Linked DNA regions of Homo sapiens: region 2 is linked to region 1. The links come from fine-mapping of genetic effects on gene expression. Tissue or cell type: whole blood. Region 1 holds a variant in brackets; the other region holds the start of a gene. All regions are shown on one strand. Distances are between the middles of the regions.

The links. PIP is the estimated chance that this variant, and not a neighbour inherited with it, causes the effect.
Region 2: CLIC5 starts here. The variant in region 1 is fine-mapped to the expression of CLIC5 in whole blood (INTERVAL, PIP 0.93).

What each region holds. Positions count from the first base shown.
Region 1 is chr6:46,039,609-46,050,332 of GRCh38, forward strand. It overlaps a transcript of CLIC5 not described here. Among named protein-coding and RNA genes, the nearest start is that of CLIC5, 29 kb to the left of the region's middle. The variant G/A (reference allele first, on the strand shown) is at 4,567.
Region 2 is chr6:46,009,795-46,020,518 of GRCh38, forward strand. CLIC5 (chloride intracellular channel 5) reads right to left here and starts at 6,066. Exons shown (of 6, transcript NM_016929.5): 1 at 5,686-6,066. The coding sequence starts at 5,748. It also overlaps the pseudogene RNU6-754P. RefSeq lists enhancers at 1,701-1,750, 5,179-6,023, 6,024-6,868 and a silencer at 5,717-5,766.

The sequences.
Region 1 (10,724 bases):
TGCTGAGATATAATTATAAATAAAACAGATATGTTGGAATAAAAAACAAAAGGGATTGTAAGGAAGTTAAAAAATTGTAAGTTATAAATGTTAAAAAGGAAGCTCTACTCTTAAGAAATGAACAGAGAATTCATCTAATTAAGGTCAGTATTCAGCTTTTCTTCAAAATGAGATCATAGGAAATAAATGGAGGGCATACACATAAGGAAATGCAGACAATAAATCAGCACATGGAAAAATGTTCAGTCTCAATAGCAACTAAAGAGATGTAAACAAAAAACCTTTAAAACACCACAGCATATCAGTTAAGTAACTGTAAACCCTGGCAATTCAGACAATGAGCTTTGGAATCAGATAGATGTAGATATGGATCCTGCCTTGCCACTTTTTAGCTGTGTCTTTGATTCAGGGTCCCAACCTCTCAGCATCCATTTTCTAATCAGTAGCATACAGCTATTATACTTAAAGGATTAGTGTGAGGATAAAATGATTAATGTAAATAAACCATTCAGTACAGTATCTGGCACATATTGAATGTTTCCGTTAATGGTAGGCAGCAATAGTGGTGGTGGAAGATAATGATGATGGTACTAGTGCTGGTAATGGTGGTGGTGAAAATGATGGTGACGGTAGCATGTGATGACACTGTTGTTTGTTGGTGGTGTTGTTGAAGACAACGCGATTGGTAGTATTTGATTTGTTGCTCATAGTGTTAATAATGGTGATAATAGCTGATCATGGTGATGGCATTGGTGGAGGTGATGGGAATGATGGTGGATGAGGCTTGGTGGTGGTACAGATAGTAGTACAGGTGGTGGTAATGGTAGCGGAACACAGTAATAGTGGTGGTGGTGAAAGTAATGGCGCTGGCATTGTTGGTAGTGGGCTTGATGATGATGATGGTGGTGAATGATGATGGTGATGTGGTAGAGGTTGCATTGATAAAGGTGATAATGATGCTGATGGTGGGGTGGTGGTGGTGTTCGTGAAGTTGATGATGGTGGTGGTGGATGACGATGTTGTTGGTAGTGATGTTGATGTCGACGGTAGCTGATAATAGTAATGGTGTTGGTGTTTCTTGTGTTGATGAAGGAGATGGTGATAGTAGTGGCTGTGGTGCAGGGGGCAATGGTGATAGTATTGTGGTTTTTTTAAAAAAAGCTAAAATTATAAATAGCAGTTGTAGCAGTTGTGGCAGTTGTAGTGGATAAATCAGAAAAATGGAATACTACAAATGCAATGTTATTGGTCTTGCAATTTGTTAGTCTTTCTAGAAAGCAATCTACCAAAAGATATGATATGTTGTACACTTTGACACAGAAGTTAAGCTCTTGGGAACATACATAAAAAAATCCCCCAAATTAAAAATGGTCTGTAAATAGTATAGCAGTGTTATTTATAACTGGGAACAATACAAAAGCCTCAGCAATAGGGAAATGACTAAGAAAATTGTGATACATCAAGATGGTGGAATAATATTATGTAGCTATTGAAAGTGAAATATGAGGAAATATGCATATGAAAAACTATGTTAGAATACACAAAGCTATGTGTTCAGAGAGTGTGCATTTGTGTGCTTTTACCAAATAACAGAAGAAAATATAATTGCAGGTGCATAGAGTTTAATAAAGGTTTCATATTAATTAAGCTTTTTCTTTATATTTCCAAAATAAGTTTAACTGCTATACCTTGCATTGCATGCAAGAAAAACCAACACCATTACTATCATTATGCTTTTGTAAATAATTAATGGTCCCATTAACTCATGCAGGGTCGTGGTTGAATTGCAAACTATACCTCAGTCCAAATAACTGGCTCCTAACTAACTAATATTGAGACAGGCCACCTCCCCACTCCTTTCCTTAGAGTCTGTTTACAGCCTACCTTTTATTGCTCATCCCAGTTCTTCGTTCCTCACTTTATCCTCACAATGCTTAGGAAGAAGTTTCAAAAGAAAACAGGGATTTTTTTGGTTGTTGTTTCAAAACCAAAAAATTAGAGGTCATAAAAAGCCCAGTGGTATCAATTTAATTACATGTCTGCTCATTTGAATGTGAGTTAGGTTTGTGGTTGTATACCTAAAGCCCCGAGTATTGATAAGTTTTGAATTTTAGAACAGTTACCTAACTTCTCTATGCTTACATTTCATCAACTATAAAATGGGAGTAACAATAGCAACTAACTTGTTGGGTGGTTGCAAAGATTAAATGAGGGGCTCCAGGTAAGATATGGCAGAGTGCCTGACACAGAGTTAATGTTTATTATTATTTGTTAATAATAAAGTTAATGTTTATAATTTTTTGTATTGAGTCTTGTCACTGCCATCACTATTATGTCTACTCCACCAAAAAGCACTAGAAGCTCTCAATTAGAAACAAAGGCACTGGACTACCAGTTTCATTATCTATATAATGGGAATATTAGACCAGGTGATTTTTGACTTGCTGTGACTCTGTTTTCTAGGAGAGAATAATGTTCTCTTTTATTGATTTTTGTCTCATGTCAGGAAGGAGAATAATAAATCCAAAACCAAACTAAAATGGGCTTTCAAAATCACTCTTTTTAAAAATTAAAATATTGAATTAATAAAATGCTCGTTTGCCTTGCTTAAATATTCTGAACAGTTTCTTAACTATTTCAATGAAAGCATTAAAAAGGTTGTATTTCTGCATTCAATAACAAACTTATCTTTGAAATAGAAAATGGCTTATGAAGTTGAAATTAATTTTTTTTTCAATAATTTCCCCAAGTTCTGTAGGTTTTTTTTGTTTTTGTTTTGGGTAGTTTTTTCTTTTTTCAAAATAAATTTATTTAAATTCCCTTCAAGATAGAAACAAGACTGAATGGCCCACCTAGGAGGTGGGGCAGGCAGGCCTTGGGAGGCACTGAGGCCACTCGGGGTGTTTAGCCAGATGTCCTTCATACTCCAGCACGTCACACATCATCAGTACAGTCATGCCTCTGAAAAACCCTAGAGGGTGCTGTTTTCCTGTTTGTTTTCATCCTTGCCTTGCCCTCTCAATGAGACAATGAAAAGAACAAAAAAGGAGGGAAGTAGATACATCAGCAACAAAACACAGACTATGTGTTTAAACAAAACATGGACTACATGTACCCGAGCCCAAGATGACATGGAGTATTGAGTCTCGGTTCCTGTTTGCCAGGTGAGGATGCAGAACCTCAGAGAGATGGGGCACTTAGTCAAGGTCACCCTGCTAACCATTGGCAATAGAGACAAAGCTAGAATCCAGACCTCAGACACTCAGACCTTCTGTGCTCTACTACATGCCTCCCTCAACAGGTAAAACACAATGTCCACCAAGTGGGAGGGCCAAGGCACATGCTTCTGGGTGCACGTTCTCTCTTGCTTATGTGATTTTGTTTCCAAGGAGCAAGGTTGCTGACTGAAAAACAGAGATATATTTCAGAAGTGTGTAATTTGCAGGGATTTTTACCTTCTGATTCTACATAGCCCACCCATAAATCACTCCTAATGACTTTGCGTCATTAGCACCAACAGAGTTGGTTGCAGTTACTAGATGCAACAGTGATGATGAGACTATTAACGGTGCTGATAATGATGTACAGTTATTGAGCACCCTCTGTGTACCATGTACTGTGCTAGGTACTTTGTATACATTGGTTCATCTACTCTTTGCTATAGCCTTATAAAGCATGTATTGTATTTTCTTATTTTATAGATGAGAAAAGTGAGGATTAGAAGTTTTAAGAAGCTGGCCTATAATTACACAGAAGGGAACTAGATTGTGAAACCAGGTTAATGTCTTCATTTGCTTATGCACCATGTTCTCAAATACCTGCAAAGTACAGGAAAAATGATAGGGCTGGTGGTGAGATAGAGAAAGGCTGGAGGTGGTGGAAGTATAACAGGTCAACTTATTTTGGAACTTTTGTGCTGCCAAATCACATAAGGCAAACTCCTAATGTACTAGGTTCACTTTTTATATTGAGGTGGAGAAAGTTGTTTCAAAGTCAGAGGGTAATTGTAGCAGTTAGAAGAAGCTAAGTTTAGGAGCCACTTCAGAGTACAGTTCAGGCAACACACACACACAAAATCTGAACTGTGGAGATGGGAAGAAAGGAATGTCCCTTCACTTGTGCTTCATTTACTTCCTGAGGGCAGCTCATGCACTGTGCTATGTCTCCATTCACCAATGTGAAAAATGAGGAGGGAGGTGGTGCTCTACACTGAGGTATGGCAAGGAGCTCTCTGTATCTAACTTGCAGAGGGCAGCAGAGTTTATCATTGCATTCTTAAAAGGAGGGACAGCCCACTCTTCAGTTCACAGATTCATCGGATGCCAGTCAGCCTGCTGTGTGCAATGTCCTCTGCTGTGTGTTGTGGGGTAGGCGAAGTTGGATAAGATGCATTGCCTGCTTCCATATGCTTGTGGGAGAAAAGAAACAACTACAATGCTGGGAGCAAAATAGTGCCTGGTATCTACCTGCGGAGCTGCCCAAATTCAAAAGCAGCCATTAGCACAGTAGTCACCCATGAGGGTCTCTGTGGTAGTCACCTGTGAATGCTTCAAAGGTTCTTTCCTT[G/A]GAAGATGCCATCTGTTGTGGCTTGAAGTTTTACAAAGGGTTCCTTGCTCCAGTTGAGGCTTTTTGACTAATAAAAAAGGAAAATACCTTGATAAAAATAACCACCTCAGATCATATTTATTCCCTGGAATGACTGCACTTGACAGGCTCTTTTCCGAGAGTAGTACCCAAAGAGGGTACATAAAGAGGGGAGAACAAGGAAGGGGAAAACAAGAAGTAGTGGAGGGAAATGGTGGCTTTGGAAAGAGATTTTACCTGTATCATCACTTGGTTTAAGACCAGGCCTGTCCAGAAATTTACATAAATTTGGAAATTTTGCACTGTGGATTTGAGTTATTTGCTTTCAGTATTGTTACAAACCTTCAGGGCAAAGGTAAAATGGAAATGGAGATTTGGTGATCTTTTGCTTCACATCTGGAGAGCAGACCCGCTTGACAGTGGCAGGAATGTAGGTTTCTTGGGGTGAGCCTGGATGAAAATGCTTCTGGGAACTTACTTCTCTAACTAAACAGTCATCTATTTTTCTTATATGATTTGGGGGCCATAGAGTGACTGAAGATGAAAAAGAATGCATATTCAGCTACTTGTAGGATTATAACACAATTAATGAAAGTTACAATCTAAACTATATCCTACTGAAGACAAAGAAAGTGAAAGAACAATAGCTCAAATTCAAAATGTATCTTGATCCATCACCTGACAATGAGAATCAAATTAATAACTCTCTCATAAATCATCAGAGGTTATGGGAGATTCATCTCCTGTGTTTGAGGCCTTCATTCTTGAGCACTCAGCTCCTCCAGAAGCGGCTGGCATCTAGCATGCTTGCCATAAATAAATCATTCTTAGCTTGCTGACCTGGAGCAGTGAGTGGGCCGTAGTCCCCCACCACACCCGCTCTCCTCTGAGAGTAAAATGCCCTGTTGCATTTTTAATACCACCCTAAGACTCTGTGTCAAGTTTCCACAAAGTTTGCCAGAGGAATTAGCTTCCTCTTTTTAATAGGCAGTTCCAAGAGGTCAGAAGATAAACAAGTTTGAAAACAATTACATTTTTTTTAAATCACTTGATCCAACATACCGCATCTTGCATTTTCAGAAAAGATTGGCTTCTATAATTTTACCACCTGGTACAACATATTGAAATGTACTTTATTTAACACAATAACCACCGAGTTATTATTATTTTTCTTGCTTCCTTTCCTTCCTTCCTTTTGCAATGTGGGAACTGCCTGCCCAGGGGAATATGACTCACCCTGGATTGACTCAGAGTATATATGACTTCATGAAACACCACAGAGTGAGGGCAGAGAGTCACTGGCCCATTCTCCATGATGCTGGTTGCCAAGAAACCATTGGCCTTCTAGGTAACAAGATGGTCTACCTGTCTTTTGGGGTTGTTCATGGAAGTTTACTTAGTGTCTGTGTATCTATGGCTCCCTGTTTGATCAAACAAGACACGTGAATAAGAAAGCAGTAAGCCAGAGAGGAACTTATTTAATCATTATTCAAAGTCAAAATAATTTTATCTTTAAACAACTATACCTACTTTTTAAATTTAGTAAATTATTACAAATTATAAATATTTTTTATTTTTTATATCTTATAAAGTTCCAATTATGCCATATTACTAATTGGTATTTACCAAAATACAGCTATCTTCCACATCTTATTCTCTTCTATGAAATAGTATTCATGCAATTTTGAACATGTTCCAGTCATTGGAAGCACTGGCTAAGGAACGCACATGAACATAAGCATTTGGTATTATTATTTTTCAAATACAAGTTTTGACAATCGCCTTACCTGTGTAAAGGCAGGTGCAATCACTTTGGGGCATGGGATTGGGGAGCTGGGGCTGAGGAGAGGGTGCCAGAATTACTCCATAGTTACCCAAACCATCTTCTCCAGTAGGACTTTGGTGAAACATTAGTTTGGATTGAAAGTACAGAAACAAAGTGGACTAGATTCCAGAGATGAAACTTGCCTTGCTTACCCCTGAGTAATGCTTCTTCTAACTGATGTGTAACTTTTCCTCTTGGGGTTTTAGTTCCCTCCACTATGTAATGAAGACAATCTCTAAGGTTCCTTTCTCCTCCTCTGATAGCTTCTGCTGCCATCTTATCTGCCTCACTTAAGGACCTTCCTAGTTACAGTAAAATCAACAGCAAAACAAGCTCATCAATTCCACCTCAATGGAAACAAAAGAAACGAAATGAAGTGTCAGTACCATTTCCCAAAACCAACCAGTGACTGTTGACTAACAGTGCAAAGAGAGTGGGAAATGGTCAAAAGTCTCTTTAACATCAGACCACCTGGTACTGCCTTTTCTGAGATTAGACATTTTACTTAGAAAAGCCTGTATGGTCAATTCAGTGTGGTCACTTAAGAGACCCCATCATTCATGTGAAACTTGCTTTTTACTTTCAGATGGGTGTATACCATGATGATTTTGATAAAGTCCACTTGAAACCATGTCCATTTCTGTTTAGAGTAGTTTTAGCACTCTTTCTATTAATAACAGTCATCTCCTTAAATAGAAGCCTGTGTCAGCGAAGTCTAACTACACAGGAGGTGTTTGTTCCTAACAGACATGCACAGGGGCCAGCGGAGATGACCAGTCCTCACTGCATGCCTGGAGGAAGTGTGGTGCCCAAGATGGCTCAACCATCATTGATTTGACAATTTAATAATCACGATGGTGGAAACAATCTGTGTCCATTTATCTGGTTAGTATAGGAAGAAGCTTGGAATACTCTGACCTAACGCAAGGATGATTTATTGTCATAATCATAAAACTCAAAGTCCAAGACCTCTCACTTTCACTGCTCCCTTCCCATGCCCAGAAAGGGACCTACCGTAGTGTTCACATGATTTATTTTTGCAAAATTTGCAAGCATAAGATATTTGAGCTGCAACTGGTTAAGACCAATGCCTCTTTTCATTACAGCTTTCCCTCTGTTATACTTCCACTAGCCTCAGATGGTATTAGAGTTGCCATGGGCATCTTGGGTACTTCACTAAGTGGGAAGTTAAATTAGGCATATATTTAGTTTGGGTTTAGTGAGATATATTTGTGTGGTCCTAAGTTATTTCCGGTAATAGTTACATTATTGTTAACCATCATGGTGAAGAGCTGGCCTTCAGTAATACTCTTGATGCCCATTGTGCTGACTTCACTCAGGTCATGACCCAAAGATGGTCATGTCACAATATAAATGTATCCTATGGCATCAGCACCAGAAATATGCAGGATATGAAGATTGAAATTTGAAAGATATAGAGCTAGAAGCTAGTCTGTGGGAAGTTCTCCCAGTTATCAGATATGTAAAATTGTAAACAGAGGATCTAGTTTTCACCAATGCCTAGTCAAAACAGAAATTCTCTCTTGTCAGGAATATACACAATAATGCAACATATACAATAACAAATGCACCATATATTTTTCAGTGGGAAGTACCCAAAGTAGACTTTTATGTATTTGCATACAAACCTGTAGTACTTCTATAAACAGTTGCAGTTTTACGTCCCAACTATTAATACTAAAAGTCAATGTTGATTGATCATCCTAGTGGAGGAATTGTGTTACCTGTCTTCTCTCCCACAAATCAGGATATTACAAAATCATTGGCAAATGAAGAGGCATTCAAAGTGTATGTTTCAAAAAAAACAGAAAAAACAGTATTACAGGTATATGTTATCCACATAATAAAATATTAATTTACCTTTTGGGATTTTTTGATATCTGTGGTATATAATAGTTTTCTAAAAGTCTGCAAATTTGTTTTAATTCCTTTTCATATTCTAAATAAATATTCACTTCCATATCTACTTTTTTTTTTTTTTTTAGACAAAGTCTCACTCTGTCCCCTAGGCTGGAGTGCAGTGGCGCAATTTTGGCTCACTGCAACCTCTACATCCCTGGTTCAAGCGATTCTCATGCCTCAGCCTCCTGAGTAGCTGAGATTACAGGTGCATGCCACCACGCCTGGTTAATTTTTGTATTTTTACTAGAGACAGGGTTTTGCCATATTGGCCAAGTTGGTCTCGAATTCCTGACCTCAAGTGATCCACCCACCTGGGCCTCCCAAACTGCTGGGATTACAGGCATGAGCCACTGCTCCCAGCCCCATATTATATTTTGTAGTTGGAATTTCATTTTTGTTTCTGAAGGAGGGCTCCTTAAAAGCATGAACTTCAGGTTCACAAATTCTAGGGCTGCCTCTGCTCCTAACCCAGTCTTAGCATGGGAAGATTTTCAGGCTTGACTCTTTTCCATCCTCCCTGTTTCAAATACTCTCTCTGCTTGCTCTTTGGCCTCATACACAGCAGGCATCTTTCTTTCCAGTCTCTTTGCCAGTGGTAAATGGCCTCCTTTTCTCAAAACTCACCTTGGCTGCTGCTTGCTTTGCTCCACCCAGCAGTCACCCCACCTCCCACCTCCTCATCAACCCCAGCTCCATTACTAGTCCAGCTCCTGAAACCTCAGCCCTGATCAGAGCCCTGGCCTTCCTCCTTGCCTGGGAGGGAGTTGAGGCTGGCAATGGACACAATTCAATATAGTTTAACCAGTGAGAAGTTGGCAATGCCATCAGGTGCCACTTGTCTCCCGGGGGAAGAATGGGGGCCAAGAGCCTGCAGTGTCATGTCAGTCAGGCACATGCAGTGGCTTAGCATCAGAATGCGTGGTTCAGACCGTGGCCACAGTAGGGAAAATGGACTCTTCATAGTTGCCAAGCAATGCTAAAGGTCAGACAAAATCTAATTTGAGAATTCAAATTTGAGAATTTAAAAGCCAGAGTGGTCAGAGGCAAGGGAGGAAAACAAAGGAGCTTGCTGTTCAAAAGCACTTTCTCCAGGCCTCCTGTTTGAATATCCCCTGCAACTACTAGGGTAAGGCAGATTTGGGAAAGATAGGGGACTGATTACACTAATGCTGTTTTGCTTTGCAAATGAAGGTTGAGAAGAGCAGTTTAGGGGCTGCTCCACAGGAAAACTTGTAGGGAGTAATCCTAGACTATCTCTTTCATAATCATCTTTGGGATTCTTTCCCTATCCAGGGAAGATGAATAGGTTTCATCCTTTAAATAATATTTTTAACCTACCTCCAAGCATAACATCTCCCAGGAACTTGTGAAAACAGCAAGAACTTGTGATAAAGTTACAAATGCTCAAAAATGTCCCTGTGATTAAGTTTTACCCATGCTTCTACAAGAAATTAATCCCTCTCCCTGTCTCCCTTCTCCCCTTCCTCTCTTTTCTTTTTTCATTTCTAGCAGATAGGAATAGTTGACTGATATAGGAGACAATGAAAGTACCCAACCATTGAGGGGAATTTAAACGCCCTCAGTATTAAGCAGAGTATCACATAGTTAAAAATACAGGCTTTGGAGACCAACAGACCCAGGTATGAGTCCCCATTTCAATATAACCTTCAGATCCAGGCAAGAGCAGTCAACCTGGCTGTGGGAATAGGCAGAACTAACATAAACAAGAAACAAAACATTGGGTTGGGTAAATTAACTCAGGGACAAAAACAGATATGTCATATAGACTACAATTTTCACTTCTTTGCCATCAGCTTTTGACAGGCTATGTAAATAGCCTCAGGCAGAAAGCTCGAGACATAGCAATTCCAATGTTTGGTAAGTTATAGTTAATTGTTTCCAAAATGGGAAATGCTGAGTTAAACAAGATTCAAGGTTTTTTGACTGATGTCTCTGCTCCTTTTATAAGCTAATGTGTACTGTGAATCTGCAAGAGGAGAATTAGGGACTGTTTCTCAAGTTTCTTTAGCCATTTTTTTGTGTGGAGTATCTCAAGGAATGTGTGCTCTGTGGGATATATGTTCAGAAATAAGCTCTGGCCTTAGGAGGTCCCATCACACCAATTGCCAATATATCTCCTCAGCAGCAAACCATTTTAAAGCCCAATGGATGTCACTGGGCTGTTTATTCACTTGTCCATTGATCCTTCTCCATGTTTCTCTGTGTCCCTGTAAGTGCCTGGACCACATCCCTATGCAGAGCAACCAAAGTTAATCTGTTCAGTTGAAAGTAACTGTACCTGCAGCTGTGGACAGATTCCTGCACGTAGTACACCCAGTCTCTGACGCTGTTGATGCCCTGCACTCTGGTTCTGCTTATTTGGTTAAATTGA
Region 2 (10,724 bases), 30 kb before region 1:
AGGAGCCTTGGGGAAGCAGTTATGTAGGAGCTTTCTTGGATGAGGGAGCAACTGACAGGAGGAATCAACTTCCCCTGAGTTTGAAGAACCCAGTGGGTCAGGGATCTGCAGTTACCCTGTAGTCAGTCCAACCACATTACTCCAGACATGGGCTCTAGTGGGCTCCAGCTTATGGAGCAGCAGTCCAGTCAGAGGCAGTCAGATCCAGTGGTGGTTGCACTGTACTTCAGTTGCCATTGGTCTGCAGCAATGAGACTCACTGCTTGTGTTCTCAGGGGTCAGCTCCAACAATCGGGAACATTTCTCTTCCAGTTCCCTGAATGACGACCTGCTTTGGAAACTTACATTTTCTTTCAAGAAGTATCTTGGTTCTGAGATGTGAGATTCAGCTGGTAGGACTGAGCCTCTGACTTCTTGTACACATCAAGGGAGGGAAGCCCAAGGGCTTTACTTTTACTTATTGGGCTACATGGAGCCTACAGAGAAAGACTTACTAATAGGCCAGATCCATACTCAGCTTGAAATGCTGACACCAACTCCATGAAAGATGTGCTGCTGCTATTAGCACTGCACTGGTTAAAACAAAAAAAAAATCTGTGGTCCAGAGAGGTCAAGCAGCCCATCCTGGCCAACACACTGGTGAACCCGAGCCTGACACCAAAGTTTCACTCTTCCACCACATCTCTTGCCACCACTAACATGGGGCCAGCAGCTGACAACTCAAAGGGAACCAAGAATGAGAAGTTTTTGACCTAACTGACTGTCTAAATTGACAGACGCTTTGTCTTGCATGGAGGGGGCCAATAAATGCCCAAAGAGACAACACAAGTCATCAGGGATGCAGGAGCTCTCAACACTGGCAGTGGACGTCAGCTTCTGCAGACCCAGTCCTCATTCCCACCACCCTGCCATGGCACTTCAAATATGCATCATACAACTCTTGACGCTAGCTCTCCAGGGATGTGTTACCAGGAGAAGAAGCACTCACTGCCATAGCAGGGCAGGCAAATTTGTGTATTGCGTTATTGACTACAGATCAAAACCTGAAGATAGTGGGAAAGAAAAACACAGTAGCTTAATATGATGAAGGGAACTTTAAAAACCTAGTGAGCTCATGCTTAGGCAAGCGGCCCAAGGTGACCAGGCAGTCACAGTAGCTCAGGGACATAGAGGCGACACCACAAGATCTGATCCTATCTGTTCTGGAAGTCAGATGACCACACCACGAGTCACCACAACTTGTATTGCACCCTGCACCACTCAGAAACTTTTGGGCCACTCAATAAATGAAAGACTAGTCGTTTCCATCAGACAATTAGCAGAACTCTGTTTTACTTCCCCCATGCTGAATTGATGATTCTTTGACTAGACCAACCCTATACACGATTGTTCTGGAGTCCTGTGGATAGGGCTTAATAGTTCGTCAGCATCTGTTAACTGGGCAGTGATTGGATGCAAGCTTTCTATCAACAACACTTCTGACCGTGATGCCCTGAGGCTGTTAGAAGTTCTGGACATTTAATCAGCATTAGCAAGGCCACCTATGTCAGCGGTGGCAGAAGCTGCCTGCTATTGGACCTGCCTCTGATTATGACTCAGTGGCTCTCCACCAGGGCTGCACGCTGGAGCCACCTGAGAGTGGATATGAAAATATTGTTTCAGGGTCCCACCCACAGACACACTGATGTAATCGGCTTGGGGAGCAAACTGCCATCAGAAGTTTTAAAATCTCTCTCAATGGATTGAATAGGTAGTGAAGGCTGAGAACCACTGGTTTCTGTTGAAACCTCAGTTCCTGGCTGAAGAGACACTTGCGGCGAGCTTGTCTGTATCATTAGTCACTTCTGGGGTCCAGGGGTGAGACTGGGAGTGGAGGAAGCAATGCAAATGGGTGGAATGCCTTGATCTAACCTACACAGCACATCCTGTGTTTGTCTTTTCAAATTGCTTTCTGTTTTGCTTTTACTTCCTTGCTCTATTTCTTTCAATAAACCACACTCACTGCCATTACCTCTAGCCTGTTGTCCTCCTCTTAGGATCAAAGTCCAAGCTACATATTATCTCATTTACTCTCAAAATATCCCTGCAAGTGAGGAAGGAGCCAGGCCTTTGTTCCCCAAGGCAAATCAGGGACGTGCAGGTCCAGAAAGGTTCAGTCTGCCATGGGACTCATAATATTCAAGTCAGTGTGTTTACAGCAATTTTCAATTTACAAAGTGTTTTCACCTATGTTCTCCCATGGAATCCTCACAGCAAATCTACAATGACAGTATTTTCATAACCAGAATGACCACACATCCTTATTTGCTCCCAAACTATCCTGGGTTATACCTGTGGTTCCAGCCTAATTATTGATATCATTCCCTTTCACTCTCAAAAGTGTCTAGATTTGGACAATAAATTATATGGTCTCCTTATTTATAACCATGCTCTTGTTTTAAGAGGGCCAGTGAGGCTCCTGAAAGTTAAATAATTTGTTCAGGATCATTTAGCTAATTAGAGGCAGAGGCAAGACTTGAACTCAGGTACTGCATCTCCAAATCCCTGCGCCATCCACAGGTATTATGGGACATTAGAATCAGAGTTGACATGATCTAACATTTCTTATTGTAGAAACTAAAAATGTGGGGAAATAATCTCTTAAAAGTCACTGTCAGAATGTTCCCCGAAAGGGAAAGACTCGGAGTACATAGCAGAAATGGGTTAGTCTCCTTGGAAGCATTCTATGAACACATTAGAATGGATTAATAACATAAATAAATGTCACCATGATGGCACTTGAAAGCCTAACTTGGCAAAATAAGGTATCAGGCCTGACATATAGGTATTTGGAAAAGAGCAAGAAATTCAAAGTCTAAACTGCTAGATTTGAGGACTGGATCTGAATGCTATCTGCCATCTACCTTTGGGCATTTTACCTACTTTCTGTGAGCACATGTATTGTTCAACAGAACAGGAGGAATTATCATTCTTAGTTCCCTGGGCTGTTACAAGAAGAGCAAACTGCAGCTCATCAAGTGCTCTGACAGCGAGTCTCATAAGGTACCTGTGAATCCAGTTTATTTGTTTTCTTTATCTTTCACATAAGTGAATCAAGCCTTATAAAGTTGCTGATGATCAAATGAGATAAGGTATTTGAACATACTTATTATGTCCTAATATGCTGCAATCTTTCCTTCTTCTTATCATTATCATTATCAGCAGTAGTAGTAACAGATAATGACTATCAATTGACGTGGGAGACAATTACAATTACATGTCATTGTGAAACTCATTAGGTGACTGTGATTTAGAGTGGTACACCCAGTGGAAACAAGAGGTTGGGAGGTCCTTCCAAGGGGGTGTTGAAAATGACCAAGTCATGACTATAACTGGGTGGGACCCATCCTTCTTGGAAGTCTTCATAGAAACCAACCCACCCTGCCCTGCAGAAAGAGCTTCAGTTACCTGACACCATCAACAAGAAGGCCTTTCTTTTTATGGGGAATCATGTACCTCAGAGAAACTCCAAACTTTGGAAAAGTGTGATTCTGTCAACAAGGATATTGCTTCCCTCAAATGACACAGTTCAAGTAAGGCCTGGGCAGCATCTTTATTTCACAATATTTCTAGCCTTTACTTGTCCCATTTACTTGTAAATGAGAACTGCTAACCTGAAGCTCAAAAAGATGGGGTTGAGGGAGGAGTCAAAACAACTTTCATACCTGATGTTTTGATCTCCCCATCAATCTGGTTTTTGAGCTAGCCATGAAGGCCTGCCTGGCTCTCATTGATTTCCTTTAGGGAAAAAACAAATGACAACACAGTCATTTTAGAATTATTTGGGGAACGCTGCAAATTGTGCAGTAAGGTTTTTATATAAATGGAGAGACTCTCCAACACTGCCAACAAGAAAATTCCAAAGGTGCAGGTAGAATCGGTCTCCACACCTAGGAGTGGGGCAAAGGGCTCCTTTGGTTCTAAAGAACCTATTTGTGTTTCAAATATCTTTCAGAAACTTGACACCTTGAAACTACCACTCTCAAGGAATCTGAGTAAGTCCTAGAATCGCTTTCTTCAAGGAGAGCAGCAAGACTCATCGCTTTGTTAAAGCTCTCCCTATTCACCCCTAGGGCCCAGGCCTGGATGCTGGGGTTCAGAACACCCCCTTGCTGCCCTAAGGTCCAACACTACCCAGCATCAGACGAGAAATGACCTCCTTTATTACCTGGGTCTGCCAAAGGACCTGGAAATCCAGCCTGGGGTGGGGGTGGGGGGAGTCCCAGAAACCAAAGGAGCACACAGGGGCCACAGTGGGAAGAGAACAGGCTGAAGAAAGCAAGTGTCACTAAATGTCAGGTGTAAGCTTGAAAAATAAACACAAAGAATGTAAAACCCAGCAGAAGAAATTTAACAAACCTTTGTGGTAGGCTGGGACAACGGAGACAGATCACGTACCAAGTGTAAAGTAAGTCACATTTTAAGAGTCAGAAAGTACCAAAGACCACAGATTGTTATCAAGGTTTATGTAGATCTCATACTTTTTGCAAACATCTATTTAATTAGCTTGTAGAGAAGGATCTTTTGGGCAAAATAACATTTTCCCAATTCCAGGGAATATTTATGCCTTTTAAATTCTGCCAGGAGGCCCCTGACAGGCACCAGTGACTCTTCCCTTCTCAGCGATCTGCATATTTCTAGGGAAACTTTGCACTGAGAGAGTTTTCCCCCTTTGTGAAAGGTCTTGGCGCCCAGGCAGTCCCCGACTTCCCCTCCCCCAAGTCCTGGCGACTGTTTCTGCTCAGCCCTGGAGGCTACTCTCCCGCAGCCTCAGGTTTCCCTACTTCTGCAGCGTCGGCACCAAGGGCTGATCAAATGTTTCTTTCTCCTTACACCGGCGGACCGGGAAACGCCGCCGCAGCCTCGCCTCCATCCTTCCTCCTACAGGTTGCAAATAAAGTACAGCAGCTCTGACATTAGGCAGTTTCTGTCCAAGGAGCAAGGTGACTTCATTTAATTTGCACTGTGCTCCTTCATCCCTGTCTGCATCAGGTTGAACGGGAGGCTCTCCCTACTACCAAACGCCTAACATTTCCTTGATACTGCCTTGAAAAATCATGATTATGACAAAAATAATAACGTCGGAGAATGGAGTGCTTGTTTTCTGCTTTGCAAGTCACCAAGCAAGAAAACACTTTTGTCTCCTTGGCTTTTATTTTAGGATCTCTGAGCGAAAGAGAGAAAGAGAATTTTAAGAAATGTCATTTTCGCTTTGCCAAAGATCATTGTGTCAATAACGTTTCTCTCCCATTCCTCCCCCTCCTCCCGTTTTAAAGGAAAGGTTCACGGGTCCAGCCAGGTTTCTGCCGCATCCCGACACCTGGAGACGTCTTTCAGGACCAGCCTGAATCGCGTCCGGGCTGGGCTCTGGACTCGGACTCGCAGCGGTGACAGCGGAGGCGGGGACGGGGGTGGACAAACTGCGGATCAACTCTCCGAGAAGACGGCCACCTGCCGGAACCTGCCTTCCTCCATTCCGCCCAGGAGCCTCGCAGCGGGGCGCTGGCCTGCGGAAAGGCCACGGGGGAGCACAGGGCTCCGCGCCGCCCTCCTGGGAGGGTCCGGAGTCCAGCGCACCCCGAGCCCTGGTGGGTGAGCCCGGCGGGAGGCGCGGCAGGTGCGGCGGGAGACTGGACCCCGACCTACCTTCACAAAGAGCTCGATCTCGGGGTCCCTGTCGTCCCCGTTAGCTGTCGCCGAGTCTGTCATGCCGTTGGCGCCCGGGGCTACCGTCCCGGGCCGGGGAGGCGCCACCTCTGCAGCACCTGGGCCAGCACTCTGCGCTCCTGCCGCTGCCCAGCGGGGCTCCTCTTCAGGGCGGTGTTTAATTTTTCACAAAACCATCTATTCTCCAGCCCGAGCAGCGGGGTCTGAGAGATCAGTGTCCCAGATGCTCACATGAAAAGGAGCGAAGCCGGGAGGAGGCGGGGGGCCACGGGGAAAGCCGGGTTAAGGGAATGACAACAGGTCGTGGGAGCAACAAGTGCCGGGCTGCCCGGAGGTGTCACAGGATCCGCGACTGTCAGCGATCCCGCCGCCGCCAACGCGCCCAAAATAGCCGGCGGCTGCAGGGCGGGGTCAGCCGGGCGGGGACGCGGCGGGGACACCCCGGCAGCTCGGGCCTGGGCCGGGCCACGGCCCCCCGCCCCAAGACCCCGCAGGGCAGGAGGCGGAGACAGAGCTGGTCCTGGCAAAGCCACCAAGGCCAAGAGGATGTCCTGGGGGCGGATAATGAGGCGAAGGCAGAAAGAGTCGAGGAGAAGGGGAAGGGGAAGAGGAAGGGGAAAGGGGAAGGGGAAGAGGAAGGGGAAAGGGGAAGGGGAAGAGGAAGGGGAAAGGGGAAGGGGAAGAGGAAGGGGAAAGGGGAAGGGGAAGAGGAAGGGGAAAGGGGAAGGGGAAGGAAGAGAGGAGATGGCTCTCAAGTCTTCTGTTTCTTTAATAAAGCGTCAGCTCCTCCGAGTTACTCCACTACCAGCCTTACCCACTTGGAAAGCCCTTCCTGTCTTAGTGATGCTCAGAACCCCCACCAAAAGGGGCATTTGCCATCCTTGGGCTAAGCAAAAGGAGAGTAGGGTGCTGGGGACGGGCAGGGCAGGGCAGGGGTGGCTCCTGGGGCAGAGGGGTGAGTCAACCCGGTCAGGTGCGGCTTCCATGCCTTTCAGCCTTCTGGGTTTGTTTATTTTTCTTCTCCCTTCTTTCATTTTCTTTCTATTTCTTCCTTTATTTTCTGATCTTACTTCATTCCCGTTCTCTTCTGGTTGTTTTAGTGAAGTAGGATGCAAACACAGAAAAGATGCACATATCTTAGGTGTATGCCTCAATGAATTTTCACAATCCAACCCACCCATGTAACGAGCGCCAGATGAAGAATAAAATGTTAGCCACAGCCCTAGAAGCTCCTCCTGCTCTCTCCTCTCCACATCTTTTCTCCCGTCTCCACTGTCCCAGGGTAACCATTATTCTGGCTTGTAGCAGCATAGGATCTTTTTGCCTGGAATGTTGGTGTCTGGCTTCTTTCGCTCATTACTATGTTTGTGAGATTCATCCATTGTGCTATGTGTAGTTGTGTATCATCCATTTTCACCGACACACTTACTTATTCATTCTTCTGTCAATGGACATTTGTGCAGGTGACTATCATGACTACTCTGTCACGAACATTCTCTCTATCAAACATCTTTTGGTTGGATTCACAGACACTTTTCTCTTGGATGTATACTTAGGAGTGGACTTGCTGAGTTGTAGTGTATAAGAATGCTCTCCTTGTGTAAACACTGCCATAGGTTTTCTAAAGTGGTTGCACCAACAGACATTCCCACCCTTCAGTTCTTTAAAAAATAATTATTGAATGTTTTGCACCAGAATCTGGTGGAATTCTCTTTGTCTTCTTTGCCTTCTCTTTAATTAATCCTGTTTGTGCTATGTCCTTCCTTACTAAAAACATGTATTTGTTTAATAGCTTTATTAAAAAATTTATCGCTTAATAAAAAAATAAGTAATAATACTTATTATGTGCTAGGCAAAAATGTTGAGCACTTTACATGTGTGAACTTGTATAATATTTACAAATAGTATAATGATCCCAATTTTACAAGTGGGGAAACTGAGACATGAAGTATTTAAGTAACTTATCCCTAGTCATTCAGCTAGGAAATGGTGAAGTCAGGATTTAAACCCAGACAGACTTGAGCCTGTCCTCTCAACTGCTCTACAAACTGCTTTTCTTAGTGCACACTATGGAAGTGCACACTTTGAGGAAACAAAGGCATGGTTTTAACGGTCTTAACAGAGATCAAAATCCCTTTCAGAATAATAGTTACATGAAATGAAAACTAAGGCTGCCACATGAATTGGGAAGATGAAGGAGCTATACAAGCTGTCACGTAAAGATACTATTTACCATGGTTGGGGTGAGGAGAGGAAAAGGCTTCATGGAGCAAAAGGCACTTTAGCTGAACCTTCCTGAAAGGTCAGGCATCTGATAGGCAAAGAAAAGGGAAAGATGTCCTCACTACCCTTTATGGCAGGCTGTGTCCCCACAGACTCTCAGTGCAAATTCCTCCTTCCTGAAGAAAGCAGTCACCAAGCCCAACGTGCAACTCTCTTGGTACATTATAACTTAATCAAGGTGATGTTTAATTGCTTTCCTCCTGCTTGGCTTCAGGCTTACATCACCAAAGCCTTTAGAGAAACAGTCACCTTCACAGCTGTACATTCTGCACCAATGACTACATACTTTAGGGAAGGACCAAGGTTACAGAGGGAGACTGGTGCCTTCGCTGCATGATGCACAGACTCAGAACATCCCTGCACTGAAGTGTAGGCAATATTCTTAATGGCAATGTGGCAGTAGCAAATAAAATTATATGCATAAAATGTCTTCGAGGGTTTTGGTTTTTTGTTTTTTGTTTTAATGAAAAATGTGTTACACGTATTTTCGATCATTTCCTTGGCTATGATCTAAACAATGTGTGGTATGACTTCTCTTTCCTTAATCCCAAACCTATCAGAGTTAACTTTCATTTTATCTTCTCCAAATATCTACTGCTATTGTAAATTTGGACAGATCTCTTTCAATAACATTTTATAGGAAATATCTCCCATTTGGACATCCCTGCAGATAACTTATAGTTTTGATATTATAAAGCTTCATGCTGCAAAAAAAATAATTCTTCTTTGGTCATAAACTATTTCTGTGCATATTTTCCATTTTCAATTTCATATTATGCCTTAGCTCAAGATAAAAGGACTTTACTTTGTACCCTTTAATGTTAAAGAATAATTGGTTAGAGTCAATTCTAGCTTTGTCTGGAGAAAAACACTATATGTCTAATTCCAGCCCATAGTTTCACAAATGTGGTGCAAGTTTTGAATAAATTTTTACCAGGAAAGTACTTTAAAAACACATTTAGTGCTCACTTTGGCAGCACATATTCTAAAATGGAAACCATACAGAGAAGATTGGCATGGCTCCAATGAAAGGGTGACATGCAAATCTGTGTGACATTCATATTTTTGTATGACTGTTGAAAGTGAAAACTATAACATATCTGATAGCATTTTTAATATATTTAGATTCAATAATATGACCACTGCAGCATAAAGGGTAAAGGGCAAGGAATTTATACAGTTGTAAGGTTTATATACTTTACTTGATATAGTAAACTCTAAGTAGCCTGAGAAAAACTAGGTATGTGTATTGTAATCCCTAAAGAAACAGCTATTTGAGTTATAAAACAAAAGTATAGTAAAAAAAAAAAAGCCAACAGATAAGCTAAAATGGAATGACAAGAAATATTCAAATAATCTAAAAGGCAGAAAAGAGGAAGAGAATAGAAAACTGATAATAAAATGGTACACCTAAATATAACCATATTAATACTTAAGCTAAATATAAATGGTCTAAGCACATAAATTAAAAGCTGAAGATTGTTGGATTGCATAAAAAAGCAACAAGAAGACCCAACTATATGCTGTTACAGAATTCACTTCAAACACAATGTTATTGATAAATTAAAAGTAAGAGGATGGAAAAGCCCCTGCCATGCAAACACTAATCAAAAGAAAGCTGGGCCGGGCGCGGTGGCTCACGCCTGTAATCCCAGCACTTTGGGAGGCCGAGGCGGATGGATCATGAGGTCAGGAGATCGAGACCATCCTGGCTAACAAGGTGAAACCCCGTCTCTACTAAAAATACAAAAAATTAGCCGGGCGCGGTGGCGGGCGCCTGTAGTCCCAGCTACTGGGGAGGCTGAGGCAGGAGAATGGCGTGAACCCGGGAAGCGGAGCTTGCAGTGAGCCGAGATTGCGCCACTGCAGTCCGCAGTCCGGCCTGGGCGACAGAGCGAGACTCCGTCTCAAAAAAAAAAAAAAAAAAAAGAAAGCTAACCTCTAAATTAATATAATTATTAATAATATATAAACATATATTAATGTAAGTCTATTAGACAAAATAGACTTCAGAAAAAGGAAATTATCAGGAATAGAGACATTACATAATAATAATAATAATAACAGAGCCAGCTCACCAAGAAGATAGAACAACCTTAAATGCATATATACTTAATAACAGAGCTTCAATATTGATGAAACAATAGCTGATGGAACTGAAAGGAGAAAGAGAAATACAGAATTATAGTTAGAGACTTCAGTTCTCCTCTTTTGGTAATTTATAGCACAAGTAGACAAAAAATCCATAAGAATATAGAATATAGAAGACCTAAACAACACTATCAATAACCTTGACCTTATGAACATTTGTGGAATATCCCACCCAAACAACAACATAATATACACTATTGTCAGATATATATGGAACATTTACCAAAAGAGATCACATTCTGGGTCACAGAACAAACTTCATTACGTTAAAATAATGAAATTATACAAAGTATGTTCTCTGACCATAATGGAATCAATTAAATTAATATCCAGAAAGATATCCAAAACACTTCCAGTTATTTGGAAATTAAGCAACACACTTTAAGAAATTCATTGATCAACAAGGAAGCCTCAAGGATTATTAAAAAATATTTTGAACTGAATTCAAATGAACATACAACATATCAAAATTTGTGAGATGCAGCTAAAGCAACGCTTAGTAGAAATTTATACATAAAACACTTATTTTGGAAAATAATAAAGTTCTGAAATTTATAATCTAGGCTTCCATTTTATGGAACTAG